Linked DNA regions of Homo sapiens. The protein of the gene in region 5 interacts with the protein of the main gene of each other region in a pairwise test. Each region holds a gene or a part of one and is shown on either strand. Other genes may lie near its edges. The genes, in order: ZNF829, NRF1, EIF3B, RBM18, NDUFAB1, HINFP and SMYD3.

The links.
Region 1: the proteins of NDUFAB1 (region 5) and ZNF829 interact in binary tests that used the Homo sapiens proteins (3 or more experiments, as listed by UniProt).
Region 2: the proteins of NDUFAB1 (region 5) and NRF1 interact in binary tests that used the Homo sapiens proteins (3 or more experiments, as listed by UniProt).
Region 3: the proteins of NDUFAB1 (region 5) and EIF3B interact in a two-hybrid assay, tested with the Homo sapiens proteins (one large-scale study listed by BioGRID).
Region 4: the proteins of NDUFAB1 (region 5) and RBM18 interact in a two-hybrid assay, tested with the Homo sapiens proteins (one large-scale study listed by BioGRID and IntAct).
Region 6: the proteins of NDUFAB1 (region 5) and HINFP interact in binary tests that used the Homo sapiens proteins (3 or more experiments, as listed by UniProt).
Region 7: the proteins of NDUFAB1 (region 5) and SMYD3 interact in a two-hybrid assay, tested with the Homo sapiens proteins (one large-scale study listed by BioGRID and IntAct).

What each region holds. Positions count from the first base shown.
Region 1 is NC_000019.10:36,889,958-36,892,291, forward strand, and holds part of ZNF829 (zinc finger protein 829), read right to left. Parts: coding exon 1,535-2,334; 3' UTR 1-1,534. UniProt on the Homo sapiens protein: May be involved in transcriptional regulation.
Region 2 is NC_000007.14:129,705,720-129,709,219, reverse strand, and holds part of NRF1 (nuclear respiratory factor 1), read right to left. Parts: intron 146-3,500; coding exon 1-145. UniProt on the Homo sapiens protein: Transcription factor that activates the expression of the EIF2S1 (EIF2-alpha) gene. Links the transcriptional modulation of key metabolic genes to cellular growth and development.
Region 3 is NC_000007.14:2,364,827-2,368,326, forward strand, and holds part of EIF3B (eukaryotic translation initiation factor 3 subunit B), read left to right. Parts: intron 1-1,490; coding exon 1,491-1,622; intron 1,623-1,698; coding exon 1,699-1,765; intron 1,766-2,107; coding exon of another isoform or gene 2,108-2,131; exon of another isoform or gene 2,132-2,146; intron 2,147-2,172; coding exon 2,173-2,219; intron 2,220-3,500.
Region 4 is NC_000009.12:122,258,341-122,261,840, forward strand, and holds part of RBM18 (probable RNA-binding protein 18), read right to left. Parts: intron 3,169-3,500; 5' UTR 3,153-3,168; coding exon 3,040-3,152; intron 1-3,039.
Region 5 is NC_000016.10:23,586,317-23,589,816, forward strand, and holds part of NDUFAB1 (acyl carrier protein, mitochondrial precursor), read right to left. Parts: intron 1,004-3,500; coding exon 881-1,003; intron 1-880. UniProt on the Homo sapiens protein: Carrier of the growing fatty acid chain in fatty acid biosynthesis.
Region 6 is NC_000011.10:119,131,580-119,134,069, forward strand, and holds part of HINFP (histone H4 transcription factor), read left to right. Parts: coding exon 1-67; intron 68-250; coding exon 251-403; intron 404-663; exon of another isoform or gene 664-718; intron 719-916; coding exon 917-994; intron 995-1,081; coding exon 1,082-1,202; intron 1,203-1,284; coding exon 1,285-1,423; intron 1,424-1,515; coding exon 1,516-1,640; intron 1,641-2,364; coding exon of another isoform or gene 2,365-2,490. UniProt on the Homo sapiens protein: Transcriptional repressor that binds to the consensus sequence 5'-CGGACGTT-3' and to the RB1 promoter. Transcriptional activator that promotes histone H4 gene transcription at the G1/S phase transition in conjunction with NPAT.
Region 7 is NC_000001.11:245,926,780-245,930,279, forward strand, and holds part of SMYD3 (histone-lysine N-methyltransferase SMYD3), read right to left. Parts: intron 3,159-3,500; coding exon 3,091-3,158; intron 2,774-3,090; exon of another isoform or gene 2,756-2,773; coding exon of another isoform or gene 2,733-2,755; intron 1,255-2,732; coding exon 1,152-1,254; intron 1-1,151. UniProt on the Homo sapiens protein: Histone methyltransferase. Specifically methylates 'Lys-4' of histone H3, inducing di- and tri-methylation, but not monomethylation. Also methylates 'Lys-5' of histone H4.

The DNA.
Region 1 (2,334 bases), on a different chromosome or scaffold from region 5:
TGTGTTTTGTCTCTATTTTCATTTATTTCAAAAAATTTTAAATTTCCACCTTAGTTTCATCATTGATCCAAAAATCATTCAGGAGCAAGCTGTTTAAATTCCATGTATCTGTTTTGAGAGTTCCTCTTGGTATTGATATCTAGTTTTATTCCACTATGGTCAGAGAAGATGTTAGATATGATTTTGTTTTTTTAAAATTTATTGATACTTGCTTTGTGGTCCAGTATATGACCTATTTTTGAGAATGTTCCATGCACAGAAGAGAAGAGTATATATTCTGTGGTTGTTGGGTAGAATGTTCTTCAGATGTCTGTTGGGTCCATTTGGTGTAGAGTCCAATTTAAGTCCAGAGTTTCTTTGTTGATTTCTGTCCCAGTGATCTGTCTAGTGCTGTCAATGGAGTGGTGAAGTCCCCTGCTATTGTTGTATTGCTGTCTATCTCTTTTCTTAGGTCTAGTAGTATCTGTGTTATGGATCTGGGTGTTGCAGTGTTGGGTGCATACATATTTAGGATTGTTTTATCTTCTTGTTGAATTTATCCTTTATCATTATAAATGACCTTCTTTGTCCTTTTTAATTTTTGTTGGTATAAAGTCTGTTTTGGCCATCACGGTGGCTCACGTCTGTAATCCCAGCACTTTGGGAGGCTGAGGCGGGCAGATCACTTGAAGTCAGGAGTTCAAGACCAGCCTGGCCAACATGGTGAAACCCCGTCGCTACTAAAAATACAAAAAAAAAAAAAAAAAAAATTAGCCGGGCATGGTGGCGCATGCCTGTAATCCCAACTACTTGAGAGGCTGAGGCACAAGAATCGCTTGAACTCAGGAGCTGGAGGTTGCAGTGAGCTGAGATCACACCACTGCACTCCAGCCTGGGCAACAGAGCGAGACTCTGTCTCAAAATAAAATAAAATAAAATAAATTTGACTAACAACTTATGTATAAAAGGAAATTACAAATATATTAGACAAAATCATTCTAACAGGGTATTATGGGTTGAACTGTATCCCCTAAAAAGATATGCTGAAGTCCTAACCCCTGGTACCGGTAAATGTGACCTTACTTGGAAACAGGGTCTTGGCAGATATAATCAAGTTAAGATGAGGTCACCAGGTAACCCCAATCTAACCTGACTGGTGTCCAAATAAAAGACATACACAGAGATACACAGCGAGAATGCAATGTGAAGATGGAGGCAGAGATTGGAATGGTGTATGTAAAAGCCATGGAATGCCAAGGACTGCCAGCTGTTAACAGAGGTTAGGAAAAAGGCATAGAACAGATCCTCAGAGTCCTCAGAAGGAACCAAAACGATCAGCACCCTTGAGTTTAGATTTCCAGGCTCTAAACTATGAGAGAATAAATTTCTCTTGTTTTAAGCCACCAAGGTTTTGGTACTTGGTACTTTGTTATCGTATCGTTTAAAAACGAATACATAGGAGAACCTTTGATAATATGTATCCTAATTTGTTCTCCTTACCTGTTTTAAAAAAATTATTATAAAGGTTAACAAAATGGTCTTACTTTACTGTCATTCAACCAGTATGAATTCCCTCATGGCGAATGAGGTCAGAGCGACTACCAAAAGCCTTTCCACATTCCTTACAGTCATAGGGTTTCTCACCAGTGTGAATTCTCTGATGTCGAGTAAGATTTGAGCCTTTATTAAAGGCCTTCCCACATTCATTACATTCATATGGTTTTTCATCTGTATGGATTCTCTGATGTTGAATAAGTTCTGAGCTCTGAATAAAGGCCTTTCTACATTCTTCACATTCATAGAGCTTCTCACCAGCATGAATTCTGTGATGGTTAGTAAGTGTTGAGGCACTATTAAAGGCCTTCCCACACTGCTTACATTCATAAGGTTTCTCACCAGTATGCATTCTCTGATGCTGAATAAGCCTTGAGTGTTGAGTAAAGGCTTTCCCACATTCTTTACATTCATAAGGTTTCTCACCAGTATGAATTCTCAGATGTAGAAAAAGTTGTGAACTTTTAGTAAAGGCTTTTCCACATACTTTACATTCATAGGGTTTCTCACCAGTGTGAATTCTCTGATGATCATTAAGGTTTGAGCAATACTTAAAGGCTTTTCCACATTCCTTACATTCATAGGGTTTCTCACCAGTGTGAATCCTCTGATGTTGAGAAAAATATGAACTACAACTAAAAGCCTTGCCACATTCCTTACATTCATAGGGTTTTTTACCAGTGTGAATCCTCTGATGTCGAGTAACGAGTGAGCCACGACTAAAGGACTTCCCATACTCCTTAGATTCATAGTGTTTTTCACCAAAATGAATTCTCTGATGTTGGATAAATTGTGAGTTTT
Region 2 (3,500 bases), on a different chromosome or scaffold from region 5:
CTTCTGTGCGGACATCACTCCGGACATTTGCCCAGGGGATATCTTCAGGCCACCAGATGGGCTTGCAGCTTTCTTTCCCCCAGCCTGGTTTTCCCCGACCTGTAGAGTACTTGAGCATCTCTGGGATAAATGCCCGAAGCTGGGCCTGGAAGAGAACAGTGTGGTCATCAATACTCATGAAAGACATCTGGGGTGTGTTTATGACTCCTTAAATTCTAACCTTATAAAACAGAGAGGTTTCCAGGAAGGTCCCAGAGAATTCTAAGATGTGACTGATGAAAACCCACTGTTTTCCATAGGTTCCTATATCTCCATGGGTGGTTGAGAATTATAAATATGTTGATAAAGTGCACCTTAGGCTGCATTTTGTAGACTTGTTCCTCTAAGAGTAAGAATATCTACCCCTAAGTTTAATTTCTGCTTCCCAAGATATTACTGGTACTATAGCTTATTTCCCTTCTACAGTTTTCATGCATGTAAGGTGCCAAACTCGGGGTGTTTTCAACACTGTTCTGGAAGTAGGAATCCATGCAATTAGATAAGAGAGAAATAAGAGGCGAGCTGATAAAATCATTATTATTTATAGATGAAGTCACCTTATATCTAGAGAATTCCAAAGAGATCAAATGAAAAACTACTACAAACAATAATGAGAATTCAATAAGGTGGCTGATTATAAAATATAGGAAAACAAACAGGCCTTTAACTTAATAAAAAGGGAAAATAACCCTAAAACTCTTCTAGAAATTTTCCAGTAAGCTAGGCCACTGTCCATGAGTCTGACATATAGACATAGTAAAGCATGTGTGAATTTAAATGCATTATGGACTTCATTCAGATTTATTTTACAAATCAAATCCAGACCAAACAGGTTTTAAACCACAAAGACAACTGCCATTCTTATTTCCTGGCATAGTAACCACACTCTGTGTGTGTTGGGGGAGGGTCTACTTTGTGAATATTCTTAATCGCTGATAATGATTTCTGGCAAGAAAAGCAGTTTATCAATTTATGATCTATTCCTCCTTCCCAGACCTACTGTCTTCCTTTTAACCTGGTGGTCTATAGCACTCCAGATATAAGTAGCATCCTGCAACTAAGGATGCACCCATACTGCCCCTGCAGCTGAAAACCAAAAAGAGGCCACTTTTAGCAATGAATCAGACTCGGGGGTGTGGATTTGTAGTTACAAAGTAAAACAAGAAAAAACAGAAATGAGAATAATTAAGTATTAATGAGAGAATGAGTACAGCAACACTTTAATATTAAAGATTTCTATAAATATCAGGTATTCTTATCATTCTTATAATAAATATTAGATATTATTTTACGAGAAGATGATACAAATTGTTACATAATAGGGAACCATGAACCCAATCAGTAATGTTGACCTAATAAAGTTCTGGTTGACGGTAGCCATGCTGTTAATTCCTGTGCCAAGCCTGCCACTTCACCTCTCTAAGTCCCCCAATGCCCCAACAGTCTCCTGCCTACAGGATATGATATAATACACTCCATATATATTTGGCTCTGGCATCAAGCAGCAGGCTGATAGAAACGTATCCATTTAAAAACCCATCAGCTGGCTCATGCGGTCATTACTTCAGTTATTTTAAGAAAGTACATCTCAAAGTCATTTTTCCCTTTATTCTAATTTCTTGGGAGTGTGTCTTTTTCTAGGCTCAAATACATAGAGCAAGAAAGGGCTTAATCTTCACACACAATATTTTATACTTCTTCATGTTAAAAAAAATGGCTTTCTCAGAGGTATAGATTAAATTGATATAGACTTTCATAAACTCCCTTTTCTTTGAATACCATTAACAGTTTCCAAAAAGGAGAATTCTTTATATTCATACCTAGGAGAGTCTGGAGAAAATGAAATGAGAAGGCTAAATAATTCTAAATTAACAAAATCCTAAAGTGGGTTGGGTGCAGTGGCTCATGCCTATAATCCCTGCACCTTGGGAGGCTCAGGCAGGCAGAATGCTTGAGACCAGGAGTTTGAGACCAGCTTGGGCAACACAGTGGGACTCTGTCTCTACCAAAAATACAAAACTCAGTCGGTTACAGTGGCACGTGCCTGTAGTCCCAGCTACTAGAGAGGCTGAGGCAGGAGGATCGCTTGAGCTCAGGAGGTCAAGGATGCAGTGAGCCATGATGGTGCCACTTCACTCCAGCCTGGGTGACAGAGTGAGACCTTGTCTCAAAACAAAACAAAACAAAACAAAACAAAAATCCTAAAGCGGGTGACAGAGCAAGACCCTGTCTTAAACCAAACAAACAAAACAGAAATCCTAAAGTGATCAGAAAGCACTCACTGTGGAGAATACTAGACTGACAGAGTCTGCTCAGATCCACCTGGAACCCTCTATATTCCCTAATTCTGGTGATCGCTTCACTTCTGACGCCTCACCCTATTTGCACCAATAGTTCCTTATGCTCCTCAGTTCTGGGTCACGTTGGCACCTGGACGTGGATATCTTTCACCCTCAAGTCTTCCTTCGGCTCTCCCACCAGGCCTTCCAACTGAGTTCCAATAACTCAATGTTACTTGAAAGGTGGGCTCAGCATCAGCCTCTTCACTTAAACTCCTACCCTACCCTCTCTCCAATCTACTTGTCTTCTCAACTTTTTTATCTTAGCAAGTAGAAAACCACCCTTTCCCCGGCCACTCAAACTAAAAATGTCAAAGTTATCTTTACTTTTCTCCTTCAACACTTACCTAGTCACACATTGCAAGTCCAGTTCTTTTGTTTTCTTTGAAACGTCTCTGGTGTCTATCCCTTCTTCTCCGGCCCCACCTTTATTCTAATTTTTTGGCCCAAGGCTAGTGTATCCTTCTAGTTGGCTTTCTTGGGAAACTCCAAGTTCTCCCTTCATTCCCTCTTCCCACATATCCTTGCCTGAGAGGTTTTCCTAAATGTTACCTACATAGCTCCAATGCTCAAAACACCTCCAAATGTCTTTTAACTATGGCAACTAAACTAGATCCTTCTGCCCAGCTTTTCAGACCCACCACAATCTGGCCTCACACTACAGTCAGTTCCCATTAATTCCCACCACTCAGCCTTGGTCCTCCATCAGACAAATCTCTGCACTGTCTTAAGAGCTGCTAAGCCCATTCCCGCTTCTTTGCCTTTGTTCTGTCCCCTGGCTGGACTATTTTCCATGCTACTATTCTAATGCCGCCACTCATTCTTTAGTGCCCAGAAAAGTCCTACATTCTTTGTGGAACATATACTAACTATTCATTCATTCTCTCTCTCTCTCTCTCTCACTCTCGGATCTTGCTCTGTGGCCCAGGCTGGAGTGCAGTGGCATGATCACAGTTCAATGCAGCCTCAACCTCCAGGGCTCAAGGGATCCTCCTGTTTCAGCCTTCAGTAGTTGGGACTAAAGGCGCATGCCACCATGCCCAGCTATTTTTTTTCTTTACTTTTCCTTCTTTTCTTTTTTTTCTTTTTGTAGAGAAGGGGTCTCCCTACATTGCCCAGGCC
Region 3 (3,500 bases), on a different chromosome or scaffold from region 5:
ACTTCAGGGATTTACCATTCATTTAATACTTCAATGTATTGCCATATTCTGATTTTGTTACTTGACCTAATAATGTTCTGTATAATACTTACTTTCCTTCAGTTCAGGATCTAGTCTAAGGTCACGTATTTTACAGATAATAAATTGTCCTTCCTCTATCACCCAGGCTTGGCGCCACCCAGTGGCACCATTGCAGGCTCATTGCAACCCCAGCCTCCCAGGTCAAGCGGTTCTCCCACCTCAGCCTTCCTGAGTAGCGGGGACCGCAGGCACACGCCATGACATATGGCTAATTTTATTTTTTGTAGAGATGGGGGTCTCACTTTGTTGTACAAGGTAGTCTTGAACCCCTGGGCTCAAGTGATCTCCTGCCTTGACCTCCCAGAGTGCTGGGATTACAGGCGTGAGCCACCGCACCTGGCCGAGCCGTGATTTTTGATCTAGCTAATCCGGCTGTCGGAGGCCTGCTAGGGAAAGGGGCGGTTGTGGGAGGCAGTGTGAGGCGAGCTGGGGCCACTCTAGGGAAAGGGACAGTTGTGGAAGGCAGTGTGAGGCGAACGGGGGCCACTCTAGGGAAAGGGGCAGTTGTGGAAGGCAGTGCGAGGCGAGCTGGGGCCGCTCTGTTTTCGCCCTCATGGGTTGTGTCTGCCTTCCCCTCTGGTGTTGTAAGGGACCGTCTGTTACACACTTTGTGTGAACTGAGTAAGCAGGTGCAGTAGCTCCAGACAAGCCAGCAGTCAGGTAAATCATGGCTGGGAGGAGCCCCCAGGCTCTGAAGTTTCTATCAGACCTGTGCTGGCTTTCGAACTGGATGGGACTTGTTTTTTTGTTTGTTTGTTTGTTTGTTTGTTTTGTTTTTTTTTTTTTTGAAACTGAGTTTCATGCGTCGCCCAGACTGGAATGTAGTGGCACGATACCAGTTCACTGCAACCTCCACCTCCCGGGTTCAAGCTATTCTCCTGCCTCAGCCTCCTGAGTAGCTGGGATTACAAGTGCCTGCCACCACGCCCGGCTAATTTTTGTATTTTTAGTAGAGACAGGGTCTCACCATGTCGGCCATGGTTGGCCAAGCTTGTCTTAAACTCCGGACCTTGGGTGATCCACCCACCTCGGCCTCCCAAAGTGCTGGGATTACAGGTGTGAGCCACTGCGCCCAGCCGTATTTTTTTAACTTGTTAGTCTTTATTAAACATGGGTAAAGATAGAGTTCCACACTGCGCCACCCTCTGGATCACTTAGCAGCCTTGTGTGGGATCGGTGAGATCTTCTGTGCTGATCTTGGAGAAACCGGAGCGCCTGCAGCGTATTGACACCAGAATGAACAAGCGCCGCTGCTTCCCGCTTCCGCTTGGGTCTCTTGGGGCCGGGCAGTGTGGGGTTTGGGGAGAGAGCTGGTTCCGCGAGTTCTGACGGCGTGTTCTGGCCGCACAGACAGACTGTGATCCTCTCGTGAGAGGAGGATAGTGTACAGTGTTGCCCTTCTCTTCTAGGTACCTGGTGACCTTTAGCCCCCTGATGGACACGCAGGATGACCCTCAGGCCATAATCATCTGGGACATCCTTACGGGGCACAAGAAGAGGGGTTTTCACTGTGAGAGCTCAGCCCATTGGCCTATTTTTAAGTAAGTGGACCATTGTAACGAGCTCTGTAGCCTTTGTCTTTTCATGGGAATACCCTGGCACTTTTGTTTTTCTTAGGTGGAGCCATGATGGCAAATTCTTTGCCAGAATGACCCTGGATACGCTTAGCATCTATGAAACTCCTGTAAGTGGCCTCAGTGATGGCAAACGCCCCGTCCGGTCCTTGCTTGTAACCGGGGTGTGGTGCCTTTCCTTATTTGTGCTAGAAGAGGAGGAGGAGGTTTCACAGATGCATAGGAAAGGCCTGTCTCCTGTGCCTTTTTAACTGCCCCTGCTCTGGGCAGAGCTCTTCAGTCACTCCTGCCCACCTGGCGCAGCCGTGGGAAGTCCTGGATGGGAGTTAATGCAGTGGGCTTCAGAACTGCAGTTCTGGGTGGCGGGTGGGTGGATGGGTTCACTGTCACGCTCTGTGTGCACTGCCCCCTAGGCAAACTCACATCAGACTCTTGTTTCCTTTTGTAAAAAGTTAGGTGTGTTTCTGAGACACTGACATGATTTGACTCAACTGCAGCCTTCCTTTTTTTTGGGCAGTCTATGGGTCTTTTGGACAAGAAGAGTTTGAAGATCTCTGGGATAAAGTGAGTATTCTTATCAGTTTGGTGTCTTAGTGTGTTCAGGCTGCTTAACACAATACCAAAAAAAAAAAAAAAAACACAATACCATAGGCTGGGTGGCTTATGACAGCTGAGATTTCTTTCTCCCAGTTCTGGAGCTTGGGAGCTTGAGGTCAGGGTGCCTGCAGACTGTCTGGTGACGGCCCACCTCCCTCCTAGTGGACAGCCCCTCGGTCCAGCCTTCCCTGGAGGAAGGCCTCCGTGGCCTGTTCTGTAAAGTCTCTCATCTCATTCCCAAGGGCTTCCCCCTCAGGACCTCCCACCCCCCAAAAGGCCCCACCCCATGCCGTCACCCCAGGGGGTTAGAATTTCACCCTGTGAATCTGGGGGACACAGACGTGGTCCATTGCAGTTGGTTTCCTTTATTTGCTGTCTCTCCTTTAGCACTCAGCTTTTTGTTGTTGTTGTTAGAGACAGAGTCTCGCTCCGTCAGGCTGGAGTGCAGTGATACGATCTTGGCTCGCTGCAACCTCCACCTCCTGGGTTCAAGTGATTCTTCTGCCTCAACCTCCCGAGTAGCTGGGACTACAGGCATGTGCCACCAAGCCCGGCTAATTTTTGTATTTTTAGTAGGGATGGGGTTTCACCATGTTGGCTGGGCTGGTCTCAAACTCCTGACCTTGTGATCTGCCCGCCTCAGCCTCCCAAAGTGCTGAGATTACAGGCGTGAGCCACCATGCCCAGCCTGTCACTCAGTTCTTAACCAGTTGGAGAGAAAACGGTGAGTTTGTTCTTTTTTTAAAATTTTTTTTTTTTTTTTTTTTTTTTTTTTTTTTTTGAGGCAGAGTCTTACTCTGTCTTGCAGGCTGGTGTAGAGTGGCGAGATCTTGGCTCACTGCAATTTCCACCTCCTGGGTTCAAGTGATTCTCCTTGCCTTAGACTCCCAAGTAGCTGGGACTGCAGGTGCCTGCCACCATGCCTAGCTAATTTTTGTATTTTTAGTAGAGATGGGGTTTCACTGTGTTGGCCATGCTGGTCTCAGAACTCCTGACCTCAAGTGATCTGCCCACCTCAGCCTCCCAAAGTGCTGGGATTACTGGCGTGAGCCACCACACCCAGCCATTTTTAAATCTTTTTTGAGACAGAGTCTTACTCTGTTGCCCAGGCTGGAGTACAGTGGCGTGATCTCGGCTGACTGCAGCCTTCACCTCCCAGGTTCAAACGATTCTGGTGCTTCAGTCTCCTGAGTAGCTGGAATTACAGGCGCGCAACCACTACGCCCAGCTAATTTTTTGTATATTTTA
Region 4 (3,500 bases), on a different chromosome or scaffold from region 5:
TCACTGCAACCTCTGCCCTCCGGGTTCAAGTGATTCTCCTGCCTCAGCCTCCTGAGTAGTTAGGACTACAGGCAACCGCCACCACGCCTGGATAATTTTTGTATTTTTAGTAGAAATGGGGTTTCACCACATTGGCTAGGATGGTCTCGATTTCCTAACCTTGTGATTCACCCGCCTCGGCCTCCCAAAGTGCTGGGATTACAGGTGTGAACCACCGTGCTCAGTGGTAGTTATATCTTTAAGCATAAATTTATTACAATTTAATAAACCAGTCTGTTTGACAGATAAAATGTTTTAAGGTAAAGAATCCATAGGATGGCCAGGCATAGTGGCTCACGCCTGTAATCCCAACACTTTGGGAGGCTGATCAGGAGGATTGCTTAAGCCCAGGAGTTTGACAACAGCCTAGGAAACATACTGAGACCCCTGTCTCTACAAAACAAAAACAAAAAACAACAAACTAGCCAGGCATGGTGGCGAGCACCTGTAGTCCCAGCTACCCAGGAGTTCTAGGTTGCCATGAGCTATGATTGTGCCACTGTACTCAAGCCTGGGTGACAGAGCTGTCAAAAAAAAAAAAAAAAAAGAAGAAGAAGAAAAAAGAATCTATAGGAAAAAATAATAAAAATGGTCTTTTGTGATACAGAAGTGGAGAAGCCAGCCACAGGGAAAGCCCAGCACTTCCAGCCAGCATGCTCTGATCTAGTTTATTACTTGATGTCTACCTCTGGCCTGATGTAAAAAGAGCAGAGATATCAGTGGGAAAGTTCTGATTCAATGTTCCTGCCAATGTTCTAATTGAAAAAAACATCCACACACTCCAACTTATGACATAAACTGAGGTGGCAAATGCCCATTTGAACCTTCCCGTCAAGCAGCAGGACACAATTAGAACAAAAGTCTCATTACAGAGAAGTGCAGCCAACACAACCAACGCTGTTTCCACACTTTAGATTTCCATTTAGACAGGCAGAGGTGGGAATGGAAACCACTATGAGCATCCCCTCATAGCCTGGGTTTTGGATGATGGAAAAAATTTCTTTGATGAAGAGACATTAATTGAGAGGTTGGACAGATTCATATACTCACCCTCAAAAGCCATGAACCGTAAAAGAGAACTGAAATAAATGCAATCCACTCTAGGGTCCCTGTGACCAAGATAACATAATATGTGGGCAACACATCTTAAATACCGTCATAATTTCTAAGGGAACTGAATATATTTACATTTGGCTGATATGAGCTTGAGCAGGTTTAAGGAACTTTTTGTTATAATCCTGATTTATAAGGTTATATCCTTTTCTTCTCTTTCCTAATCTTAACTCTCATATATACCTTGTCTCATCTCATACTCAAAGAAGCAGGTTTCCTCATCTCCTCCCTTCACCTTTCGCCCAGGCTGGAGTGCAGTGGCACAATCTCCGTGCACTGCAACCTCCGCCTCCCAGGTTCAAGCAATTTTCGCGCCTCAACCTCCCAAGTAGCTGGGACTACAGGCATGCACCACCATGCCTGGCTAATTTTTTCATTTTTAGTAGAGACGGGGTTTCACCATGTTGGCCAGGCTGGTCTCAAACTCCTGACCTCAAGTGATTCGCCTGCCTCGTCCTCCCAAAGTGCTGGGATTATAGGCGTGAGCCACTGTGCCCGGCCTCCCCTTGTCTTTAACACTATTCTAAAGGGAGTAACTTCTAGGACTGATGATATGCTCAAAACTTGCTTTCTGCCTGGCATGGCGGCTTAAGTCTGTAATCCCAGCACTTTGGGAGGCCAAGGTGGGTGGATCATTTGAGGTAAGGAGTTCGAGATCAGCCTGGTCAACATGGTGAAACCCCATTTCTACTAAAAACACAAAAATCAGCCAGCATGGTGGCGCATGCCTGTAGTCCCAACTACTCGGGAGGCTGAGGCATGAGAATTGCTTAAGCCCAGGAGGTGGAGGTTGCAGTGAGCCAAGATTGTGCAACTACACTCCAGCCTGGGCAACAGAGCAAGACTGTCTTAAAAACAAAAACAAAAACAAACAAACAAACAAAAAAACTGGCTTTCAGCATTGACCTCATACAGGCCAATCCACTCATTGTACTCTGCCACCAACCACCACCCTCCCTCTATCAAATAACTGGCAGAAGGGAAAAACCTCTCAATTTTCTCAGCTAAGAAATTCCTTTTCATCTTAATGGCTGTGATGTAAAAGAGCAGGGAGTCAGGGCAATTCAATCAATTTCGTGAACTCGGGCAAGGTACTTCTGTCTTTCGGGACTTGGTTTCCTCTATGTAGGATAAAAAAGCTGGGTCCCATCAGAGGTTGTCAAGTGTGCTCTATGGAGCCCTGGAAGTTCTACAGAGCCTAAACAGGGATGGCCAAAGAAAGGGTAGTAGTTGACAAAAGATTTTGGTTCCATCTCTTCTCCCTTTTAGTCAGAGCAACTCTGAGCTCTTATTTTATATACAGCTCTGATTATTACTTTTACTCTAAGACAGGGTTCTTCAGATTTAAGAAGTCTGCAAACTGCTTAGCATGGCACTTGGCACTCAAATCATTTAATGAATGAATGAAAACCAAAGGGACATGATTTCTAAGGTTCCTTACAACTCTGACCTTCTATAGTTCTATGGCTGCTTAATATGAATTACAGTCAAGTGGTCTCCTCTGCCTGTTTGCAAAGGTACTGAGACTTCTGCTTGTTCCTTTATTCTGGGTACAAATGTATTCCCAAGGCTGATTCTAGAGAATAATTCCCTAGAGCTACTAGGTACAAGGATTCAAATAGTTGGAAATGGGAGAACGTCTTTGGCAGATAGGAAAAAAACAGGTATATGGATTAAAGGATACCCAAGTCTGTGTCCTTGCAGTAGCAGAGTCCAAATGTAAAAAAAGTGACAAGATAACAGGCTAACAACATCTTATCTCTCCGAAGACACGATGTAAGTAAAAGGGTCTAAGTATATCCCACACCCCTTGAAAATTCTTCTTGACATCATCACCACAAAACATCCCAATATTGTAGGTAAAAAACTAAGGTAACTTAGACTTACTCGGTAATTTTGGGGTCCAGGTTGCCAATCCATAATCGGTGTCCTTCCTGCAGAGAGCCCTCTGAAAGGATGGATGCATTCTCCAGGGGAAGAGTTTTGGTTTCTGCTTCCATCAATGTCTATGAAATACTAAAGGAAATGTGAACATTCAGGCAGGAGGGGAGTAACAATGTGTGAACACAAGACTTCAAATTCAACTCAACAAACATTTATTCAAGGAGGGCATGCCCTCTGGGCAGTCCTTCAAAGGCCTCAGTGATTCCACAACCAGGGCCCCAGAACCAGTTCCCTTGGGACAACTGCTCTGGCAGCCAGGGCACACAAGCTGCCATTTAAGGTGAAAGGGGCGTGGTTCTGTGTGGAGAAACTAAAGTTTTCCTCCTCTGAAGCCAGAGGCTGACTGGGCAGGAGGCCAAAGTCTCTATTACTACATGATACTTCAGTTCAACAACTGTCACCCA
Region 5 (3,500 bases):
TTACCTACACAACAGATTCAATTTTTTTTCGTTGTTAGATGGAGTTTCACCCTGTCATCCAGGCTGCAGTGTGCAGTGGCATGATCTCGGCTCACTGCACCCTCTCCCTCCCGGGTTCAAGCAATTCTCTGCCTCATCCTCCCGAGTGGCTGGGATTACAGGTGTCTGCCACCACGCCTGTCTAATTTGTGTATTTTTAGTAGAGATGGGGTTTCACCATCTTGGCCAGGCTGCTCTTCATTTCCTGACCTCATGATCCACTCGCCTCGGCCTCCCAAAGTGCTGGGATTACAGGCGTGAGCTACCACGCCCGGCCCCACTTGTGTTTTTATTATTTATTATTATTTTTGAGATGGAGTTTCACTCTTGTTGCCTAGGCTGGACTGCAATCACGCTATCTCGGCTCACTGCAACCTCCACCTCCCGGGTTCAAGTGATTCTGCTGCCTCAGCCTCCCGAGTAGCTGGGATTACAGGTATGTGCCACCATGCCCGGCTAATTTTGTATTTTTAGTAGAGATGAAGTTTCTACATGTTAGTCAGGCTGGTCTTGAATTCCCGACCTCAGGTGATCCGCCCGCCTCGGCCTCCCAAAGTGCTGGGATTACAGGCATGAGCCACAGTGCCCGGCCAGTTGTGTTTTTTAAAAAGGGTGAGAGATACATACATATAATATACACACGTGTGTATACTTCTTTAACATATGCATTGAGTACCTTTGGAAACATACATGAAACTGGTAGCGCTGGCTATCTCCCAGAATGGGCCTGGGTGTCTGGGAGCCAGGGAGATTTTTACTGAGTATCTTTCCCTTTGCATTTTCTAGCATGTAATTAAATACTCTATATTTAAAGAAAAAAATTCAAACCACCATCAGTTACCTTCTCTGGGTCAATCTTGTCATAGAGTTTCAATACGTAAAGAACACGGTCCTGGATGCCCTCTAACGTCAAAGGAGGCATGTCGCTATACTGGCGGCACAACTGTGTAACTCTACCAGGAACCTAGAGCGACGGCAGGAAGGAAACACTGTCATTGAATGGAAAATACCTCTAAATCAATGCACAAGCCTATAGGTAACTTTCACAGAACTTTCGGGGCTTTAGAGAACCCACAGCATCTGATTCTCATTGTGGCCACCAGGACACACTAAGTTGCAGGACTGGGTAATCGCAGAAGCCCCAACAGTTCAGCAGCATCTCAGGCCTCCTTCCTGGGAGTCAGGACCGGCCCCTCTGCCTCCTGGCTTCAACCCTCAGGCTCTGGACATTCATACTGCTCTGCGACACTAACTGCCACTAAAATTGTCTAGCGTCTGCAGAATGCCTGTGTCTTCTCATGGCATCTTCAGCATCCCGAGGCCTCTACAGGGTGCTGCCACCTTTAATAGGCTGACCCAAGTCAAAATAACCCAAAAGGAAAGAGCTGTCATGGTAAACCCAAAGGCAATTCAAATTGAGGACCATACACCAGAAAGGTCTAGTTTGGTTCCAGCAGTTATCTCCCTGATCTCAGCCAGGACAAAGGAAGCTGGCCTCCCACCCAAAGAGGGGATGAGGGAGCTTACAGTCACTACATTCCAATCTGTTTCCCTTCCAGCGAGGCTTGCCTCATGGCCACCAGCCAAACCATGAGCCCTTCTGGCCTGTGCCATGTTAGAGCAATACCTCACGTATCTCTGGTATTAGTCGGCTCAATGTTTAGGTATTAGGGTATTGACCAGATTTCATTCAACAAATGTGGAATGAGCTGCAATTACAGGTCAGGGGGTTTAATGCTGTGGAAGGTACGACGCAGAATCAGAGAAAACAAAACAGGGTATCTGGCAGTTTTGCTCACTACTGAAATCCCTAATCTGGCTAGTCGTGGTGGCTCACGCCTATAATCACAACACTTTGGGAGGCCACGGTGAGCAGATCACCTGAGGTCAGGAGTTCGAGACCAGCCTGGCCAACATGGTGAAACCCCGTCTCTACTAAAAATACAAAAATTAGCCAGGCGTGGTGGTGGGCGCCTGTAATCCCAGCTACTCAGGAGACTGAGGAAGGAGAATCGCTTGAATGTGGGAGGAGAGGTTGCAGTGAGCCGAGCCTGCGCCATTGCATTCCAGCCTGGGCGACAAAGCAAGACTCCGTCTCAAAAAAAAGAAAAAGAAAGAAATCCCTAATCTAAATTGGTTTGTTTACCTCCTGAAGTTGATTTTAAGTCCGAGGCTTGGCGTTCTTCAGGCATTTCCCTATAGAAAGTGGGGCTGCTTGTTAGGGCTCAGGTCCCTGAAACTCACAAAGGTCCATGAAAAATCATAATAAATACTGCCCAGAGAACCAAACCAGTATAACCTCTGTAGAAGAAACATTCATCTTGCATAAAGAACAGGTATTGGGCCGATGTGTGTCTCACACCTGTAATCCCAGCACTTTGGGAGGCCGAGGTGAGCCAATCACTTGAGGCCAGGAGTTCGAGACCAGCCTGGCCAACATGGTGAAGCCTCGTCTCTACTAAAAATACAAAAATTAGCTGGGCGTGGTGGTGTGTGCCTGTAATCCCAGCTATTCAGGTAGCTGAGGCATGAGAATTGCTTGAACCCAGACAGAGGTTGCAGTGAGCCGAGACTGTGCCACTGCACTCCACCTTGGGCCACAGAGCGAGACTCTGTCTCAAAAAAGAAAAGAAAAAGAAGTCAGTTATTAAAATCAGGTTTAGGCTGGGCGCAGTGGCTCACACCTGTAATTGCCACACTTTGGGAAGCCGAAGCAGGCGGATCACGAGGTCAGGAGTTCGACACTAGCCTGACCAACATGGAGAAACCCCGTCTCTACCAAAAATATAAGTTAGCTGGGCGTGGTAACATGTGCCTGTAATCCCATCTACTCAGGAGGCTGAAGCAGAAGAATCGCTTGAACTTGGGAGTCGGAGGTTGCAGTGAGCCAAGATCATGCCATTTACACTCCAGCATGGGTGACAGAGTGAGATTCCGTCTCAAGAAAAAAAAAAAAAAAATCAGGTTTAATCAGCAAACTAAAGAGATGAGTTGGAGAGTATGATAGATATTCTAACGAGCCTTTCTGAGTACTTTCAAGAGTTTTAGAGCATGTTTCTTTGTCTAAATGTCTAGTCTCCTTTCGTATTATACATGGGTTAAGGAGACCTTTTATACAGGCACATGACCGGCCTACTTAACAATGACTCAAATAGGTTTCCAAGTCACAAATAAAATGGAGAAGAAAGGAATAAAGAGAAAGGGGGAGAAGAAATGAGGTAATATGGCAATGGCAGAAAAGAAATTTCAGTTGGAGGGATCTAACAGAGGCTGTGTGCTTATCAAGAAATGGTACGAGGCCAGGTGTGGTGGCTCACGCCTGTAATCCCAGCACTTTGGGAGGCCAAGGTGGGCGGATCTCTTGAGGTCAGGAGTTTAAGACCAGCCTGCCCAACACAGTGAAACCTCCATCTCTACTGAAAGTCCAAAAATTAGCCGGGCATCGTGGCGTGTGCCTATAA
Region 6 (2,490 bases), on a different chromosome or scaffold from region 5:
CACAGTCTGTGCTGTGAATACGAAGCAGTCGGCAAGGACAACCCGGTGGTGCTGTGTGGCTGGAAAGGTAGGGCTGCTTCTTAACTTGTGGCTTCTGGAGGAAACGCTGGGGTTCCTGAAGAGCTGGGACAGAAAGGGATAGGGGTCCTACAGGGGCAAGGTTGACTGCCGGCTGGAGAGACTCAGGGGTACCAGATCCTAGGCAAAACTGGGGTTTTGTGGCAGGAGACTGATAGGGCTTCCTTCCCAGGCTGTACCTGCACCTTCAAGGACCGCAGTAAACTTCGAGAGCACCTCCGCAGCCATACCCAGGAGAAAGTGGTAGCCTGCCCCACCTGTGGGGGCATGTTTGCCAACAATACCAAGTTCTTAGATCACATCCGTCGCCAGACCTCATTGGATCGTAAGTAGTCAGAGGAAGTGGGGTGGATGCAGGCTGTCCTGCTTGGAATGGGTTAGGGGCATGTTTCTAGTGGGGGTGGCCACTGAAGAGACCTGCCTTTTGGCTGCCTCTTCTTTTTGGGCTCAGGCACCTCCCATAGTCTCTTTGCTGATTCAGATTCGTAGGCATTGTTATTCAGTACTTACTGTACCTCGTATCAGTTACTTAGGGAATCCTCACAACAGCCCCATGAGGTAGGCTTCTTATCCCCCTTTTTGCAGATGAGGAAACTGAGGCTCAGAGAGGTTAAATCACTTACCTGAGATCACACAGCTAGTAAGTGGTGAAGCTGGAATTCTAACTCAGGTTCTCTAAGTCCCATGCTCTTTCCATGATACTGTGTCCATTCATAGCTCCCTAAGCTCTCCTTTTCTCCTTGGGTGGTTCCCTTCTGCCTGGGATGGTTCCCCTCTCCTTTCTGTGCCTCTCCACTATCACCTACAGCCCTCCTTTCTTCTGCCTGCCCCACCCCAGAGCAGCACTTCCAGTGTTCTCACTGTTCCAAGAGATTTGCCACAGAGCGGCTATTGCGGGACCACATGCGCAACCATGGTGAGTGGCCTGCGGCCCACAGCCTCCCTCCTGCCCTCCAAGGTTCCACAAGTTCTCACATCACAGCCTCCTCTCTGCTTCTCTCAGTGAATCACTATAAGTGCCCTCTGTGTGACATGACCTGCCCGCTGCCTTCCTCCCTCCGCAACCACATGCGCTTTCGTCACAGTGAGGACCGGCCCTTTAAATGTGACTGTTGTGACTACAGGTAAGGGGGACCAGGGACCAGAAAACAGCTCATGTTCCAGTGTTCCCCATGTCCTCCAATCCCTCCTGATTTCTCATGGCAGCTGCAAGAATCTTATTGACCTCCAGAAGCACCTGGATACCCACAGCGAGGAGCCAGCCTACAGGTGTGATTTTGAGAACTGCACCTTCAGTGCCCGATCCCTCTGCTCTATCAAGTCCCATTACCGCAAAGTACATGAAGTGAGTGGGGCTGGTGTTGGGAAGGACTAGTGGAAGTATGGGGGACCCTGGGGTGAAGAGCTGGTCTCATTTCTCCCTTCCTTCCCCATCAGGGAGACTCTGAGCCAAGGTACAAATGTCATGTGTGTGACAAATGCTTCACACGGGGCAACAACCTCACCGTGCACCTTCGCAAGAAGCACCAGTTCAAGTGGCCCTCAGGGCATCCCCGTTTTCGGTATGTCTCTCAACCCTCCTTCCCAGATTAACACACTTGTTTTTATACCTTTTCAACCAGTTTTAAAAACCTTAATTTGGGTCGGGCGCGGTGGCTCACGCCTGTAATCCCAGCACTTTGGGAGGCCAAGGTGGGCGGATCATGAGGTCAGGAGTTCGAGACCAGCCTGGCCAACATGGTGAAACCCCGTCTCTACTAAAAATACAAAAAGTAGCTGAGCATGGTGGCACATGCCTGTAGTCCCAGCTACTTGGGAGGCTGAGGTGGGAGAATCACTTGAACCCAGAAGGCGGAGGTTGTAGTGAGCTGAGATCATGCCACTGCACTCCAACCTGGGTGACAGAGCGAGACTCCATCTCAAAAATAAATAAATAAATAAATAAAACCTTAATTTGATGGTGGTTTTATGTCTGCCATTTCCATTTAGATTCAAAGAATCCTAAGAATAATGGTGGAGCAAAGCTTATTTTTCTGTTTTTTGAATCTTGTAAGGCATGGTGCCAAACCCAATAAATGGTGCCAAAAAGTCCTGCAGCTGGAACTAGAGCTAGAGTCTAAGGGTTCTGATCCTTAGCTCCAAGGCCTTCTCATAAATCCTTTGACACTTTCACCCTCCAACACAGTCAGTCAGTCTCTGTTTTTCTGGTTGGGTTTCTATATAAAACTTTCCATTTTGAGTAATGATCTTTCCCTCTTGCCTTTTCTTCTACATATTCCAATAAAGACCTTTTTTGTCTTCAACTCCTGTCACTTGGATTCCAGGACTTCTTCCATCCCTCATGTTTGTTCCTTACTTTGCCAGCCTCGGCCATTTCTGTATCCCCCTGCCTGGGTTTGCTGCCCTTTATGC
Region 7 (3,500 bases), on a different chromosome or scaffold from region 5:
GCTCTTCAGCCCCCAAATGAATATTGCTGAAAATAGATAGCGGTTTCATCTCTTACCTGCCTTGAAGTCCTTTGCGGCCCCAGAAAAAAAAGAGAAAAAACTACATTGTCCATCTCACTGACATCTATCCCAGTATATTTCATACACTGGTCCTAAAATCTGGAAATTTAGCGAGTAGTTGTATAAGAAGTGGCTCCTTCCACTGAAAATCAGTTTGGGGAGAATCTTGTCAAAGCCAAATCCCTGTCTACATAAAATATGGTACCTCTGAGTTGAGGTTTTATTGGCTGAGTGCTGCATAAATGCAATAAAAGCTTTCAGTACTGTTTTCCTTGCAATAAATATCCACTTTAGCAAATTGGAAAGGAGAAGGAAACGGGGTTCTGGAAAGTAGAAATATCTGTAACTCAGAACTCAGCATGGGTAGTCACTGTGCAAACCAGTGCAAGCTTAGGTTCAGAGCCCTGGAGCAGCCCGTTTGCAGCTGTCTTGTAAGAAGGTTCTGCACCAAAAGAGGCTGGCTGGACAGTCTGTCAAACTGGAGGGGTCAAGGCCAGTTCACTGCTGGAGGTCATCCTCCCTGTCCTCTATTCCCTTTGCATCTTTGCTGAAATGATCACCCAGAGATGCTGATGGGTTTGTCAAGTCCCAATGTCAGCCTGAGACAGTATAAGCTGTTTGCTTTACTAGCACAAAGTTAACATGCATCATTACCTTCAATGTAGCCAGTGGCCTTCCGAGTGAAGAAGTCTTGGGGATCCCACTCACAAGCTGGGATGCCCCCCCCTGCCCACGGAAGGATATGAGAGGCTGCTCAGCTGTTGCCACTGAGGAGATTTCATGAATTCCCTGTGTGTGCATAAAACACACACCCTCTGTCATACACAAACTCCTCTCTCTCTCACACACAGGACAGGAACTGTCATCATCCAGAAATATGGTGACCTCTCCCCTAAAAAATTAGCCCATTTGTAATTTGGGAGAAGAAAGGATAGGTTGCTGGGGAGAGGTGACTGAACTACAAATACTCTCACTGGCAGAAGGACAATGAAAAGTTGTCCCCTCAGGCACAATCAGTTTTAGGGACGGGCCGAGCTGAGAGGGTCTTTGATAGGAAAGAAGGCCAGGCTGGGAAGCATGAGTTTCCTTACCTCCTCTCCCACCTCGATGTCTCGGACTGCTCGCAGTAAGAGGTGGGGCCCATTGAACACAATCGAACAGTTGGGGTCACAGCTGTGATTGAGCAAAGAGATACTGGAAAAAAAAAGGGGGGAAGACTGTCACAGCTCAGCAGGTAGAGTCAACTAAATTTAACAAATGCAGTGGGTAAAATACACCTTCCTTTGGGGGGCAGCAGCAGGTAGGGTTGACAGGATGCCAGGGGTTCAGTACTCGGGGATGCATTCACAGAAATGTCACTAGCACACCTCCCACGAAGTGCAATTCTCCTCAAGATGCAGGCTAACTAGGGAATTCCGTCATTTAATAATAAAAAAATTTCCTGAGTCCTTTTTGGGGATTGGGGCATAGTTGACTGATTAGATAACAGTCAATAAGGCAACCCAACACGAAGGTCAGAAAGAAACTGACTCAGAAAGAAATACTTAGACAGCTGGGTGTGGTGGCTCACGCCTGTAATCCTAGGACTTTAGGAAGCCGAGGTGGGTGGATCATTTGAGGCCAGCAGTTTGAGACCAGCCTGATCAGCATGGTGAAACCCTGTCCCTACTAAAAATACAAAAAAATTAGCTGGGTGTGGTGGCACATGCCTGTAGTCCTAGCTACTCAGGAGGTGGAGGCAGGAGAATCGCTTGAACCCAGGAGGCGGAGGTTGCAGTGAGCCGAGATCGCACCACTGCACTCCAGCCTGGGTGACAGAGTGAGACTCCATCTCAAAAAAAAAAAATACTCAGACATAATGGGATGCAGCAGCCAAGATACCACTGACCTCTCCCATAGGATCTCATTTGTTGAGCTCCTTTGGAGAAATGGCCGCCTTTGCTAGAACATCCACACTGAAAAATAATTAGGACTATTTGCTCTTAAATAGAGAGCTGACGTTATTTTGCCACCTACATCCTGATGCATCCTGGGCCATGGTCCAGTCATTTTATTACCTTGGAGGGACATTTCTTACCATCTGGGAAACAAAATGGATTTAAGCTGCTATCAGGAATTGGTAATAATTAGAATGAGCACTTACTATGTAGAAACACTTTCTTGCACTTGAGCATGTTCATCACATTTAATCCTCACAACAATCTTATGAGGATCATTTACAGGTAAAGAGACTGATGCACAGAAATTAAATGACTTGCTCAAGGACATACAGCTAGTAAGTGGTGATGGAATTTGGACCAGGTGGCCTGAACGCAGAGCCCATGCTTTGAATCATCCTATGTTACTGCCTTTTGAGAACCACCTACCAGTAGACCTGACCTACAGTTAATGACAATTGTGAGAAATAAGAAAAAAGGCTGAATTCTTAGATTCACAATTATTAGAAAGTCTAAATTTGTATTTGGACTCTTATGGCATAAAAACAAAATGAAACTGGGTGTGCCTATAGTGCTTGTGGAGAGACGGTTTCATAGCTCAGTGGTAAGAGTCAGCTCAGCAATAGCTGGAGAGAGCATTCAGGGGCCAAAGCCTGAGAGTTTTCTTGCCTCCTTGAGTGAAAGGGCTCAGAGTGTGCCAACTCGAAAGACAACATGAACCCAACTGATACGTACGGCAAGTCCGGTGAAATCAGCATGTGCTGCAGCTCAGGAAACTGGGGAATAACCAAAAATCAGCCCGATGGTTAATTAGCACCCACCGTCCTCAACTTCTTCACCCAAAGTCCCCCTGAGAACAAGAGTTTAGTTCTGAGATCTGCCCCTTTGTTAATATCACAGCATATAATGTGGGGTTATAAAACTGTTTTCTTTCAACTTAACATTTTCCATTTTTTTGTAATTTATTGCTAAGTTTTAAGCTTGGCTCTTGAACAAGCTGCAGCAACTGCCTTTCTAACTACCTCCAAAGGGCTGGGGATTTGGGTGGGAATGAAAGTGTGTCTTCCAGTACATGAAGTACCATACACCATACCTGGGATATAGGCCAACACCAACTTCCTGCATCTCCGCATTACAGATGGTGAAAGAGTTGCAGATCACCTGTAAACACAAGGGGAACCATCAGTATTACTAGAGTCACTTAAGAAACTTCATAGCCAAGAGAATAAAAAACGTTCAAACCCAAATGTAGGAGCATCTTAGTAGTTGCTTAAGAAAGAGCCAAGCCAATCATGGATGCTCTTTGACTTACAACAGAATTTATCTGGGATATACTCCCCCTAAAAACATCAGGTGGTTAAGTGCAGAAATACCAACCTCCTGGGAGAAAAAAAAAAAAAACAGACGGAAACCAGCAGAGGAACCATTAATTTCAGTCTCATTATCCACTACCCCAAAGTTACAGTTACATGAACTGTTCAAAATCCAGAATATGAATAAGCT